Homo sapiens: one gene and its partners. The protein of the gene in region 3 purifies or fractionates together with the protein of the main gene of each other region. This does not show direct contact. Each region holds a gene or a part of one and is shown on either strand. Other genes may lie near its edges.

What was found. Proteins that work in one complex are often made in the same cells at the same time.
Region 1: the proteins of CYTH4 (region 3) and FRMD4A purify together in Homo sapiens (affinity purification with mass spectrometry; one large-scale study listed by BioGRID and IntAct). This does not show direct contact.
Region 2: the proteins of CYTH4 (region 3) and PROX1 purify together in Homo sapiens (affinity purification with mass spectrometry; one large-scale study listed by BioGRID and IntAct). This does not show direct contact.
Region 4: the proteins of CYTH4 (region 3) and OFD1 purify together in Homo sapiens (affinity purification with mass spectrometry; one large-scale study listed by BioGRID and IntAct). This does not show direct contact.

The regions. Positions count from the first base shown.
Region 1 is NC_000010.11:13,662,925-13,666,424, forward strand, and holds part of FRMD4A (FERM domain-containing protein 4A), read right to left. Parts: intron 3,402-3,500; coding exon 3,173-3,401; intron 586-3,172; coding exon 529-585; intron 1-528. UniProt on the Homo sapiens protein: Scaffolding protein that regulates epithelial cell polarity by connecting ARF6 activation with the PAR3 complex. Plays a redundant role with FRMD4B in epithelial polarization. May regulate MAPT secretion by activating ARF6-signaling.
Region 2 is NC_000001.11:213,990,973-213,994,472, reverse strand, and holds part of PROX1 (prospero homeobox protein 1), read right to left. Parts: exon of another isoform or gene 3,499-3,500; intron 1-3,498. UniProt on the Homo sapiens protein: Transcription factor involved in developmental processes such as cell fate determination, gene transcriptional regulation and progenitor cell regulation in a number of organs.
Region 3 is NC_000022.11:37,303,008-37,306,507, reverse strand, and holds part of CYTH4 (cytohesin-4), read right to left. Parts: intron 3,255-3,500; coding exon 3,106-3,254; intron 1-3,105. UniProt on the Homo sapiens protein: Promotes guanine-nucleotide exchange on ARF1 and ARF5. Promotes the activation of ARF factors through replacement of GDP with GTP.
Region 4 is NC_000023.11:13,758,748-13,762,247, reverse strand, and holds part of OFD1 (centriole and centriolar satellite protein OFD1), read right to left. Parts: intron 2,134-3,500; coding exon 1,528-2,133; intron 1,164-1,527; coding exon 1,037-1,163; intron 1-1,036. UniProt on the Homo sapiens protein: Component of the centrioles controlling mother and daughter centrioles length. Recruits to the centriole IFT88 and centriole distal appendage-specific proteins including CEP164. Involved in the biogenesis of the cilium, a centriole-associated function.

The DNA.
Region 1 (3,500 bases), on a different chromosome or scaffold from region 3:
GGGCCAGGTATGGTGGCTCCTGCCTGTAATCCTCCCAGCACTTTGGGAGGCCGAGGTGGGTGGGTCGCTTGAACCCAGGAGCAACATGGCAAACCCAGTCTCTACAAAAAAATACAAAAATTGCCAGGTGTGGTGGCATGCTGTAGTCCCAGCTACTAGGGAGGCTGAGGTGGAAGAATCACTTGAGCCTAGGAGGCAGAGGTTGTAGTGAGCCGAGATCATACCACTGCACTCCAGCCTGGGCAATAGTGTGAGACCCTGTCTCAAAAAAAAAAAAAAAAGTTTTTGGCTTCTAAAAAAGTAAAGCACCACTCACTGATGAAAAGCTCTAATACACATGGGTTTATGCAGCACCTACCCACTCCCAACCAAAGAGGTGAATACTGGGAAATGAGAGAGCTTGCAGGGAGCCCAGCTGCCTTTTGGCCTGGCTCTTGCCTTTACACAAGGCAATCCCCAGACTACATAGAAATTCATCTCTGTTTACTCTGAGCTGTAGGTTTGTAAGCAGGAAATGCATAAACCTACCATCCTCAAGAACAAGGGCATCTGAGAGGGAGCTGTCTTCACTGGCAATGTTTCCATCTGAGAAGACAAAAAGCAATAGCCTATGAGTTCAGCACATTCCTTCAGCAAAGCCCTATCTGTAAAAATAGCATGTCTACTACCACCTCATACCTTTCTCTTCCTAACCAGAAACAACCCACCAGATACAATAAAAATGCTGTTGGGTGTTTCTTTTGTCAGTCCCCGTGGTGGGTCATTGGCTCAGCCTCCCCACCCCGACACTGCCATGTGCCCATGTGCCCTAGCCTTTGTGTGTTTGTGCCCCGGTTTCATAGAATACTGCAATGCAGAGTGGCTTCATACCGAATATAAAGGCTGCCCCAGCCTGATTAAACCACATCATTGTCCCTGCACAAACCCAGGGCGTGTACCAGCAAAACCAAAGGACGCAAACTGCTTTTGATTCTACAAATGCGAAACCAGGGTAGGCACTTTGCTTTGCTTCTGTGGCAATAAATGGCTTCTCAATAAACTTTGTAAGTCATTAGTAGAGAAAACAAGCGTGCTAAATACAGGCTCCATCTCTCCAAAGCTTATTTTTATAGATGCCATTCAATTAACCGGGAGAACACACCCAAAAGGGAGATGGTAAAATAATCCTCCCTGTTTCACTGCTGGGGAAACTGAGGGGTAGGAAGGGAAGAGTGGTTTGTCCGAGGTGGTTTTGCTCTCCAGCAATGTGAGCAAAGGTCCCAAGTCTTCAGATTCCAAGTTTGGTGTTTTATCTCTAAAATAATACGCTAAGGAACTAGCAAGAACCTTAATTACTCCTCTAGTTCAAGTGGGTCCTTGGATGTTTCTATAGGAAACATGTTTCTGTTGGGAACCCCTAAGTGCCTTGGAGGGGGCAGAGGGTCTCAAATGGAGTGTCAGAAAGAGGTTGGCTGAGGGAGCTTTACTAGGAGGTAGGGGAAAAGTTGTGTGGTCTTGGCCAAGGACAACAGGATGAGATAGGGAAAGATGGTCATTCCAAATTTCCTAGAGCAAAAGAATTTTAAAAAATTCTCTTTTTAACTAGAAATTCACTTTATTTATGTTGCATGATGGACTATGAGCAACCAGGAGCTCTGACTTCGGCATCTTGGAATCTTCAGCACATCACTGCTACGCTAGGATGCTCACGAGTTTAGGCTGCAAATCTGCATCTATCTATATTTATCTATCTATGTAATTGTGGTGAAATATATATAACATCACATTTACCATGTTAACATTTTTTTTTTTTTCAGAGATGAGTCTTGCTATATTGCCCAGACTGGCACGCATGGTTACTCACAGGTATAATCATAGTGGACTACAGTCTCAAACCTCTGGCTCAAGTAATCCTTCTGCCTCAGCCTCCTGAGTAGCTGGGACTATAGGTGCATGCCAACATGCCCAGCTTAACTATTTTTTTGTTTGTTTGTTTGAGATAGAGTTTCGCTCTTGTTGCCCAGGCTGGAGTGCAATGTCGCAATCTCAGCTCACTGCAACCTCTGCCTCCCAGGTTCAAGCGATTCTCCTGCCTCAGCCTCCTGAATAGCTAGGATTACAGGCATGCGCCACCACGCCTGGCTAATTTTTGTATTTTTAGTAGAAACACTTTGGTCAAGCTGGTCTTGAACTCCCGACCTCAGGTGATCCGCCCGCCTCAGCCTCCCAAAGTGCTGGGATTACAGGTGTGAGCCACCTCACCCAGCCCCAGCTTAACTATTTTTAAGTGTACAGTTCATTGGCATCAAGCACATTCCCATTGTTGCGTAACCGTCACCACCATCCATCTTCTGTTTGAATAATATTTTCATGTTTCCAGACTGAAACTCGGTATCTATCAAGCAGTAACTCCTCATTCCCCTGTCCCCTAAGCCCCCTATAGTAACCACTATTCTACTTTCTGTCTTTCTAGAGCAAAGGTATTTTAAACACACATACCTTTATGTGTGTTTAGGAGGAAAGAATGCTTGATATATATTTTCAAGAATTCACTGACTTAGACAAGAAGGATTCTAACAGTTTAGGGGACTTGATGCTTTGTGGGTGGATTTTGGGGGATTTCCTTCTAGAATTTACCAAAGGTCATCACCCAAATTCCTAACCCATGACTGGAGCTCAGGGTTCCAGATAATCAGATGGTCCAGTCTCCCCAAGCTTCAGCTCTTGGGATAGGAGGCCCCTGGCAGCATAGGGGTCAGTGGGTTGGCGGGGGCCGCTCGAAGACAGGGATCACTGCTGCTGTGTACCCCAGCCCCACCTGTCCTTCCAGACTTGAGTAGGGGTGGTCAGGTCCCTGAGAGTGTCAGAGCCTGGTCTAGCCCAGTCAACTCAGCTCAGTTCACAGTAAGGGCTGAGAAGAATGCTAGCTCCTGGCTGCAGGTTCTCCCAGGGAGGAAACCAATAGTGATACCAACAGTTTGATTCGTACAATCCCTTCATCTGTGTCTGAGTCCACTTGGTTTCTCTCATGTGGGATCAGGCCTTACTCGCTTCATTTTATGGATGGACAAATGAAGGCAGCGGACAGTTAGGCAGCTGCTCAGGTCGTGCAGGGACCACTCGTGGGACCTGGCGTCTGGTTGCCGGGGCCCGGGCGTGGGAGTGGGGTGGGGGCAGCCCGGTTGGCACTGACCGTCTATGATCAGCGAAGCCCTCTGGGTGGGTTTCTTCCCAGACTTGATGCGGTTCTCATTGATTGCATTTTCAATCTCCTGCAGTTTCTTCAGTGCATTCAGATACGAGGTTTTCCTTTGTTTCTTCAGTTTTTTGCTGACGTTGGGGTCACTGGCTAGGCGGCGGGCGGCCTCCGTAATCTGGGACTGAATGGCAAACTCTCGTTCCAGGCGTTCCAGCTCAGCTTCCTGTGGGAGGGAAAGCACCGGTTTGGGTTACTGGGGATGCTGAGCAGGGAGACCCTCATCCTTCCCTCCCCTGTCCCAAGGCAAGTCCAGTTCCATGGG
Region 2 (3,500 bases), on a different chromosome or scaffold from region 3:
AAAGCTCTGTTAATCAAAGAAACACTTGCATGGGGGGCGGTTACAAGGAAGACTTTTTTCTGTGTGTATATCACCTTCCCCAAAATAGAGCTTATTGCCCTTATTTTTAAATTTTACATCTTTTCTATTTGTATGCAAATCCTTTTCTCTTGACTATCACCTGCAAAGCACATGGATCTCCAATCAAAATGTCAAACAAACTTTTTGCAGTATTTTTTCTCTCCCTGTTCACCCTAACACCCAAACTGGACTTTCCTCCTGCCATCCTTGCTGTGGGAAGAGCAGCTCTGCCACAGAGGCTTGGAAAGGACAGACTGGTGTCGCTGATGAGCACAAGGTCATCCCCAGGCATCCTTCCTTTTCCAACTGCCATTTACCTCTGCGTCAACTGCACTTCCTCTCATCTAGCCTAGGTATCAACAGCTGCATCCCTGCCCCATGCTGGAGCCAAGAGGAGGGCTGTGCTCTTCCTAAGGTGGAAAGAAATGCTTGTGGAGTCTGTTAAGAACAAGATATAACTCCCTTGATATTCACCAAACTAAACTAATTTTGTAATTCTATTTCAGTCAACATTTTTAGATTAAATAACGATTTGTATCTGTCTTGGGCTAAAAGAATTTAAATACTTTTAGGTCTTGTTGTAAAATGTCCAGCTGGAACATAACAAATAAGACAAAACAAATGGGAAAAATAAGATAAATTATATAATCCAGGACAAGGCATTATATTAATAGGCACAAATAAATATATCTCTCCATATAGCTTAGATTTAATTTAGAAATAAAAGTATAGTGGTAGCACACACTGGAACCATAACCCATGGAAGCTATAGGCATGATTAAATAATAATAACCGGTTGACACAGCACTTTATTAGCATCACATTTCATAAACAAGATATCTATATGAATATATTTACCACATAAGAAAATGTACTGTTACGTTACCATAATATAAATTAAATCTCTTAAAAACATTTCCCAAGTGCTTCCATGATATTCCAGTTCAGAATTTAAAGGAAGCCATGGAATGACTTTATCATTGATATTTTTTAAACTCCTTTATTTCTCAAGATATGTATTAAGCTATCATGTTTCACCTGCAATTATTATTGATGCATATCATATTTGCATTTTAACATTAATTTTCAGTTTCACTAGGCAATATGAAGCTTTTGATCAACACTGGTGGATGTCCAAATCAGCAAGGATGCAGAAAAATACTGATGAGAATTTGAACCCAAATGTATTATTGATCGGATACACTTACTCTATTCCTGTAAACCCCTCTTTAATTAATGTGAAAGTCTATATAGAGTTTTTCATCATTAAATATTTTGTTGCATCACTTCGTATATAACCTACACAAATGCTTTAGTAATTCTTATACAATGCATATCTTAACATAGCAGATTCCTCCCAGAAAAAGATATTAGAAGAATAAACATCCAGGTATAATCAAAACAGGTTTTAACTACTCCAAAAGAGTCTCCTTTAATATCTGAATTATCTGACATTCTCTTTAACATGCAAAATTCTAAGGAAACTGATGACTTAAGGTTAGGAGGAAAGAATTTTCAGTAAAGAATTTCAAAGGAACACTGCAGCGTGAAGTATAAAGTGGTTAAGTGCTCTACTTTAATAAAGAAGTTATTTCGGGGAGGAGGATTCAACTTTTACTGCATCTATCTGGAGTCCAGATTCTGGACAAAGAAGTGTTTCATTACGGTAATTATCCAGATAGTTCAGACAAATCTTTTATGAGGCAGGGAGAGTGTAAGGTTGGCATGGTTTCCTGCTTGGATTATTTAGATGATCTGTCTTTGTTGATAAAATTATTTGAAGAAATTGTGCAAGCCTACACTTGACTTCTTTTAGAAAATCATCTTTGTATGGGCCTCTAATCTACTTGGGTCAACCTGGTTATGAAATTTCAAATAGGATATCATTAACAAAGAATATTTCAAATCAATCTGGAAATTAGTGATTCAAAGGGGAAAAATCAGATGGTCTGATTTAAGTAGCCCCTGAATCATTAAATTGTCCCCTTCACTACATTCAAGAATTTGTTTCTGCTAATTAGCAACTTTTTCTTCAGAGATATTGGAGATATTTCTGCTCCCTATCAGGTTAAGAAAACCTTTGATATTTATTTTGAAGAACTCACTTGACATAAGTTAATACCTAAATTAACTAAGATTGCGTTATCAGGTTTTTAAATTTCCTGTCATAATATACTTCTCAAATCATTTAAGATTTCATTTAAGATTCTCCCATCCCATCAAAAATTCCACACACTTTTCACCTGCAAAATGAACACAGAACATTTTCTGAGACATGCCTAAAATATTAATTTCTACTTGTTTAAAAAGTAACAACTTATCAGATAGGTAAATAAGACAGAGTGTGAAATAATCTTAAGAAAATACACTTTTTTCTTTTTGCAGAAAATTGAACTCTCTAAATGTCCTTTGAGAATGCACAGGCAATAAGTCTGAGAAATTCCTTATGTATATGGTTCCTTTCCAAGTTACACAGGTACTTAATTAAAATCCTATAATGATACATCATGCACAATCTATTTTCATATTATAACATCAGTCACATTTTATAATTTCTTTTGTTAATCTGAAACCTAAAACTTCTTATATTAACACTGCAAATTCAAGACAATCCCTAAAATGATATAAGACATTCATGAAAAGAGGCCTGTTTGAGTTTTAAACAAATAAAGAGGAAGTCTGGCAACTTACAGAATAAGCCAGCTTAGGTTTTAAGATAGCATGTGCTGCTTATAGAGGAATGATGCTAGGAAATGAATAAAGTGAGAACAAAGATGCATGTTATGTATGCATGACTTTTTTTTCCCACAAGGTGGTGATTAAACTAAATAGAATTCTGCATAATGGACACATAAAATATCAATAAGTGCCAAGCACAGATAACCCCTATTAAAAATAAAGCAAATGAACATAGGCATAGATGACATTTTAATTACCAAAGAACTTCAAAAGCATCCAAGGAAAGTATTGGGTGTGTGTGTGTGTGTTTGGGAGGTGGGGGGACGTTAATGTTGAAGTCTACAGAATAAATGACACATACGATCTCATTTTCATGGAAACAATAACTACCCAAACACAAAGCCAATGAGCAAAAACCATTTGCCAACCAACCTATTCCTGTGCAACTCAGTCTACAGAAGTAGTCTGTTTAAAGATAATTTTAAAAGGTCAAGTTTTAAGAAGCCAGATATAGTGCTTACATTGAATTCCCAACAACTTTCCTCACACATCAAGCCACAGTCCTTAGCTTCACCTATTTTACTATTACATATACATGTCCATGTTTTAACCCATGGACAAGTTAATGTGAATACTCTCGTTTTCCTCCCTCAACACACACAAAAAATTTCATTTTGGAAATACTCAGAAGTTCTTGCAAGAAATTCCCTGTAGAACTGACTTCTCACATCTTGCATCAGAATAGAAAAGCACAGTTACCT
Region 3 (3,500 bases):
CATGGGTTTGAATCAGGACTCCTCATAAACTATGAGACCTCTGGCCAGCTACCTCTCATGGAGCTCAGTGTCCTCTGCTGTAAACTGGGGACGGGATGACTTAATAACGTAAAGTACTTAGTACTGTGTCCAATCCACAGTCCATTCTGACCGAGAGGCCTGGGCAAGGACCCAGGAGGTGCAGGGCTGCCTATGGCAGAAGATGCCTGGAACTGGGAGACTGTTACTCTGCCTGGGCCTCAGTTTCTCCAACTGTAACACCGGAGAGTGGAGTTCTTTGTCCCCTTATCTCCTGTGCCTCTTCCACCCTAGCTCCCCCTCCCACAGCCCTCAGGGTGGGTGGTTCCTCTCCTAGCTTTTCTCAAGGCCTGCCAAGTGCCAGGCGCCTGACAGCTTCTCAGAAAACAATATGAAGCCAGCATCATCAGCCCACTTTGCAGATGAGGAAGCTGAGGCTCATGTCCAAGGTCACACAGACATAAGGGCAGAGCTGGGATTTGACCTCCCATCCCTGTGAGTCTGAACTCACTGTGCCTTCACCCTGAGCTTCTTGGGGACTCTGCCCCTGCCCCATCTGGATGGCCAGAGCAAGGTTGGCTCAACCCTCCTGTCCCCTGACTACCACTGTGCACCTCTCCACAGCCTTTCCCAGCTGCGCATCCTCATGGTCTGTGTACCCTTGAGGTGACCTCTCTTTGGGTCACACCTGTGTAGACTTAATTTTGCAAATTGGGCCACTTAAAAGCATTACATGTCCTCCTCACTTAATGGGCCCAAACTGGAGAATCCTTCTGCAAAGTGCTGACCTTTGACTATCTGAAGGTGCTTAAAGCTGAATCCTTGCTTTACATATGGGGAAAGTGAGGCCCAGACAGAAGGCAAGAGGATCCCCACATCCACGCAGCTGCCTGTGTGTTTCTTTTTGACCTGGGAAGCTTCAGGATTGATTAGCCACTCCAACTACACCAGGCACTTGGCTGAATACCTTACACTTCTGCACTAATCCTATGAACTGGGGCTCAGAGAGGTCAAGCCACTTTCCTAAAGTCACACAACCAGAAAGTGGGGTAGCCGGGACTGGAGGTGGTTCTGAGTCCAGCGCTCTGTTCTTTCCCTTAGTCTGTGTCTGCCTCTCTGGGTTGCCAAAGAGGATAATAAGGGCTTCCTAAACCTCCCGGGCAGATTTTGAAGCTAAATTGAGATAATAGACCCCAAAGCCTGGTGAGAAGAAACTTACAAGTTCCATACAAATGCAGTGCATTGTTATTAACAAAAGGCTCGAATTGGGAAAAACAGCTAAGGAGGGAGATGCTGAAGAGGGCTCACTGGGAGCTAGAGGCAATAATGTGGCACCTGGGAGAGCGGCAGGACCAGTGCTGGGAGGTAATTAACTCATTCCCTGCCAGACAAGGTGTGCCCGCATAGCACCACGAGGACCCCAAATGAAATGAGTCACCAATGCTCAAATGCTGTTTAAAATGTTTCAGGCATTTTACTAAATGCTGGGGCTTTTTTCATTATTAATTATTTTTAATAGTGACTTAGGCCACAGGCCCTACTTTAGCTGGGGAGCCACGCAGGAGGCAGGTATTATATACCTGGCACAGGCTCTGCCCGTAACATTTAAAACAGTTACTCCCTGTGGCAAGTATTATTATCTCCACTCTCCTGGTAGAGGGGATAGTGGCTTCAACTCCAGTGAGTCATTGCCCAAGGTCACCTAGCAGGCAAACGGGGAAGATGGGAGTAGACCTGAGCTCCAACCAGCTCTCAAGCTCTCATGCTACGGAGTGGCTCCTCTCTGATGTACTTTCTCCTTTTGGGACCAGGCAAGAGGTGGGTTAAGGGTGAGGCAGTTCTCAAACACCGAGGGGCACCAGAATCATTCCAGATCCAGGCTCCACCCCAGCCTTGGAGGCAGGAGGTATACTCGGTGCTGAGCTGGGACCGTGGTGTTCGCGCCCCCTCTGCCCCTCCCTGCTGGGCTCTGACCATGGAGGGGATTGAAGCTCAGGGGGCTCTGGGGAATCTTCAGTCCTTGAAGTGAACTTGTCCATTCATTTTTCCTAAGCCAGGCTCTGAATCTCTCCTTCCTGTTCTTATGAATACCCCCTGGCTCCCTGTGGCCCATAGGAAACAGGCAAACTCCTGAGGCTGTCATTGGAAGCCCTGGACCCTCTGGCCCCACCCTGTCACCCACTACTGTGCATATATACCACACCTCGGCCACACTGGACACCTCTCCTTTCCCAATCAGGACACGCCTCCGTTCTGGCCACTTCTTCTTTTTGAAATGTCCTTTCCCGGCTTCTCCTCTGGGAGCACTCCCATGTAACCTTCAAGGCCCAGTTCAGAAGTCACCTCCTCTGTGAAGACTTCCAGGATGGCACCCTTCCCTGCCCCCAGAGCAATGACAGCCGCAGTGACAGCAGATCTGCGTCTCCAGAGCTCCATCCCCACAGCCAGCACCGCATGAATCATGCAGCCTTGTGATTCACATGTGTACAGTCCTCCCACCAGACCCTGAACTTGGTCAGGGCAGCATATGTGGTTGATTCATCCCTGGGGCCCCTGTGCTGGGCGCAGAGCCTGGCATGGTGTGGCAGGGGTGCAGGCTATTTGAGGAAGCGACCGGAGGTTGGTAGGGCCCAGCTCAAGTAGGGCCTTGTGGAAGACCTCAGTTTCCTCCTCTCTAAAGGACAGAGGGCTTAGAGCAGAGTCTGAGGGTTTTCAGGCCTGACATGCTGAGCGTCTAAGAATCTCTATTCTAAGAAATAGACCTGGGCTGTGTGAGGTACCCTTTTTGGAAGATGTGAAAGATGGCTGCCTAGAGTCCCCCAAAGGCTTAAATCTGGGTGGACCTCCTGGGTGGTCTATCTCGGACATCCTTCTCAAGATGGGGGCCTCTTTTGGGCAGGCGGGTTTCAGGACCAATGCGCTTTGTGACGGTGCCTCTCAAGACAGTCACAGCCTGGGTGGGCCATATCAGCAGAGTCCCCACTGGGGGCTGTCTATCTCAGAGGAGCCCCTCCCGGGCCATCCATCTAAGGACAGGTCCCTCCTGGATTCCCCGGGGCCAGGCTGGGTGGGCTGCGCCTCTCTCACCCGCAGCTGGTCCTCGGGCAGGTCGCTACCATTGTTGATGCCGCGGTTCATGGACACAAAGCGCTCAAAAGGCGGCCTGTCCCGGACGTTGGGATTGTGGAGGCTGGTGTTGAGCATGATGATGGAGAAGGACAACACGTAGCAGGTGTCTGCGGAGGGGACAGCGGTCACAGTTCTGGCCCTGGCCACTCTCCCTGCCTCTGTCCCGGCCCCTTCCAGGGCCCAGAACTGCCATTGCAAGGCCCCGAAGGTCCACCTTGTCCTCCTGGCTTGGGCTTTGAGGCCCAGCCTCCTCTCCCTTCCCACTCTTGCTGGTCCCCACCCCCTCTTAAACTAACCTCAGCCTCTTTTTCTGAGCCCCTTCCTACCTCCGCGCGTACGCTCCTGCTGGATCC
Region 4 (3,500 bases), on a different chromosome or scaffold from region 3:
CAAAATTCCCTTTCTCTTTGTCTTGTAAATAGCTCCACCTCACCACCACCACTAGGCATTGTTCTCAGCAATTAATACCTGTTTAATCAGTTACTCCTTGTAACTATTTCATGCTGTGAAGTAGGTACTACAGTTGTTAATAAAGAATAATGTTGTACTCTGAATGCTATTCCTAGGAAATAACCATAAAACATTTCTGAAAAAAAATTCTGCACACTATCAGCATGAACCAGATGAAGATGCAACACCACAACCTTGAGTGAGCAAAGCGCCCTAACTCAGCATATGTGTGTGTCTTATCCTTCCTTTTGGCTTATCACAAAAAAAAAAAAAAAAAAAAAAAGCTTTAGGACTACGACAGGCCCATGTGGCAGAGAACTACATTAACATGCAGATGCCCGAGATCGAGCCTGGAGCTAAGGAGTCAGTTCCCTCTGCTGTGGGGCCCAGGTATGGGTAGGAGTCTGCTCATGACTCAAATCATAGCCTGGCTGACCCAGTGGACTAGTTTCTAAAAACATCCACTCCTTCCTGTTTCAACAATCATACACCAGAGCCTGCTACCACGTTTGAATTTATTTCAATGATATGCAGGTCAGAACCTTATCTGTTTATATTTCAATGCCAAAATATTTTAAAAATGACTTTTTAATGATGTGTAAAATTGTTCCAACTTTATAAATAACCTCCATTTGTTTGCTTTCAGATTTTGTACATTTGTTTTTTATCTTAATAAACCAAATCTATTCACAGAACTAGGAAGATGCTTATTAATACCAGATTGCATGGTCCATATATCAAGTTTAGCAAATAAGCATTATCCACTTATTTGCTAAAAGCAATCTTTTTCCCTCCAGGTAATTTAGATGATTCTCAAAGATGACATATCATTTTGCAATCTGATTGCAAATTCTATACTGCCACATGATCTATAATAATTATCTCAAAAAAAAAAAATCCCAGTAAAACAAGTGAAGGCTGACAGAGCAAGTAACATTATTCAGCTGAAGCTAATCAATCAGAACGTTATACTTACCCCACTTTCTGCTCCGGAGGGCTGGAGACAGGAGGGATGGAGAGGCTGTGCCTAGACTCAGTGGGTGATGGTAGGGGCATTCTGTCAGGACAAGGACTGGGGGAAGCAATGTGTGATCTGCCCAGACCTAAGGTGCAGAAAGAACCAAGGCAAGAATATTACCAATTGCACGGAGAAGATACCAACGTGGTTTCTAAAGAGCTCTACTAGTTTGAAAATAAACTGTTATCCTCACAAATAGCCAATTATGATGCATAAGATCCAGAAAACTAATGATTCAAGCACCTAAATTAAATTGCAGTGGCAATAATAAAATGCAGGAAACCAACAGGCAGCAAAGGCAAGGCAACTATCACTCTCTAAACAGCTCTGTGTGCCAAACACTAGACCTTGCCACTCTGGCCCGCTGACCCTCACGGCAACCCTGTGTCGTGGGCAGGGTGGCTACCCAACTCCAGAGCACCCCGCAACCCTTTGTGCGGGTGGCTTACCTTCCAGATACATTTCACTTTCGAGGCTTCTTTTTGCTTTTGGAAGGGGTGTGGAAGAGAGGCGTCTGGAGGAAGTGCCCCCGCGGAGCCTCGAGGCTGCACTGCCTGTCAGTGCTTCCACGACGTCATTCCTTTCTTCAAGTGTGCCCACTTGAGGCTGCTCAGAGACAACTCTGTCCTCTCCAAAAATATGTCTTTCCGGGGAACTGGAAGTAATGTTTTTGAAGGCTTCCAGCAAGTGCAGAGATGGTGGGCTCTTTGCTGCTAGTGGGCTTTTGGCAGAGTTTTTAATGACTCTCCGATGGTAACTTCTGAAAGCCTTTTCCAAGCGTTCGGCCTCTTGCTGAAGCTCTTTGACCCTTGCCTTAGTATTGGCTACAAACTCAAGGTCAGAATCAGGGGAACTACCCTCCACCCATGCAGTTGGATAATTTGTGATCCTTGATGCAACCATACGTGCTAGAACGTTTTCCTGTTTAAAAGGATTGTTCAAGAAATCCCCACTTATCTCACCATTGCAAGGCACCACATTGCCATTTATTAATCCATTGACAGAACGATCGATCACAGACTGCTTTGGATTGCAGTACACTTCATTCTCTAGGGCTGCAGGGTACAAAAAGCCAATTTCAGAAGTAAGTGGACAAGGCAGAGAAGAAAATATACTTGAGAATATTATTTTTTTGAAAAATGGAAGAGAGTAATAAGGACAAACTTGCACTATACAGTTTCTGAAGCCATGGTAACGATAACCACTAACATTTACTGAGAGCTTATTGTACCAGCTACAGCTTTGTATGTCTTTTGTAACATGATATAATTTCAGAATCCATTATGCACAATTTTGAAAGCCACAAGGCTCTGAGAACTGAAAATTTATTCATAATTTATTTGGTGGCAAAGCCCAACCAGACTTGAACTCATTTGGTTGAAAAGTTTGACCTGAACTGATGTAAACCCATTTATAATCTTTATTTATCCCAGCATGAATATTCATACAGTTGACTGCAAAATAATTAATGTGCTTTACTATAGGATGCTGTTCAGAACTCCCAGGGCTATTGCGAAATCCACAGCATATGGCCCGAGTTTCATATAAGGAAGTGAGGACCTGCATTCACAACAACACTGTGGTCAAGAAACTCTCACTGCTCCCATTTTACAGATGGGGGGACTAAAGCTTACTGAGGCTGGGTCACACGGTTAGCAAGTCTAAGAGCTACTGGGCTTTCCTAATGCAAAGCCAGTGCACCTGCCCCTCTCTCCTGCAATGCCTCCCCGTGATGCTACAAGAAAGAAGCTTGCCCTCGGCAACACATGCATGCGAAAGAGTTCTATCCTCATTCAACTATTTTTTATTGATAGGAGACTGCTATGATTTCAGCTGTGAGAAGTTTCACAAACAGAACTGAAAGAAAATGAGGAACAGAAAAAAGCAGAAACGAGTAGAGATAAAAATAAAACAAGTGCTGGTAGAAGAGAGCAAGGAGCTGATGAGGAAACAATGCAGGTGGGAACAAGGAAGGCTCAGACCCAGTTGAACTGGTAACACATACGTACTTTCTTTGAACTTGAAAGCAACTGAAGAATAAAGTATCTGAACTTTAATATCCTTCTTACGAAGTAGGAAGGGGCAGAGATGCATCCACAGTGAAGACACAATAATAAAATGATACCAATAACCATTTCCTGAGTGTCTTTTATGTCCCAGGCACTGGACTGAAACCCATTTCATCTTTTTCATCATGGCTCAGTAGGTATTATTATCCCCATTACAAATGAGGAGACTGAGGCCCAAGGAAGTTAAAGTAACATGCCCAAGGTCAAACAACTTCAAAACGGGTCCAAAAGAAGAACAGTTCTGATTCTGAAGGCAATATTCTTTTTGCTAAACCACCCTGCTTGTCCTGTATATTTATATATCTATCAAGGAATCCGTAAAACTACTGAATTGGTGTTAACATTGGGGTAAC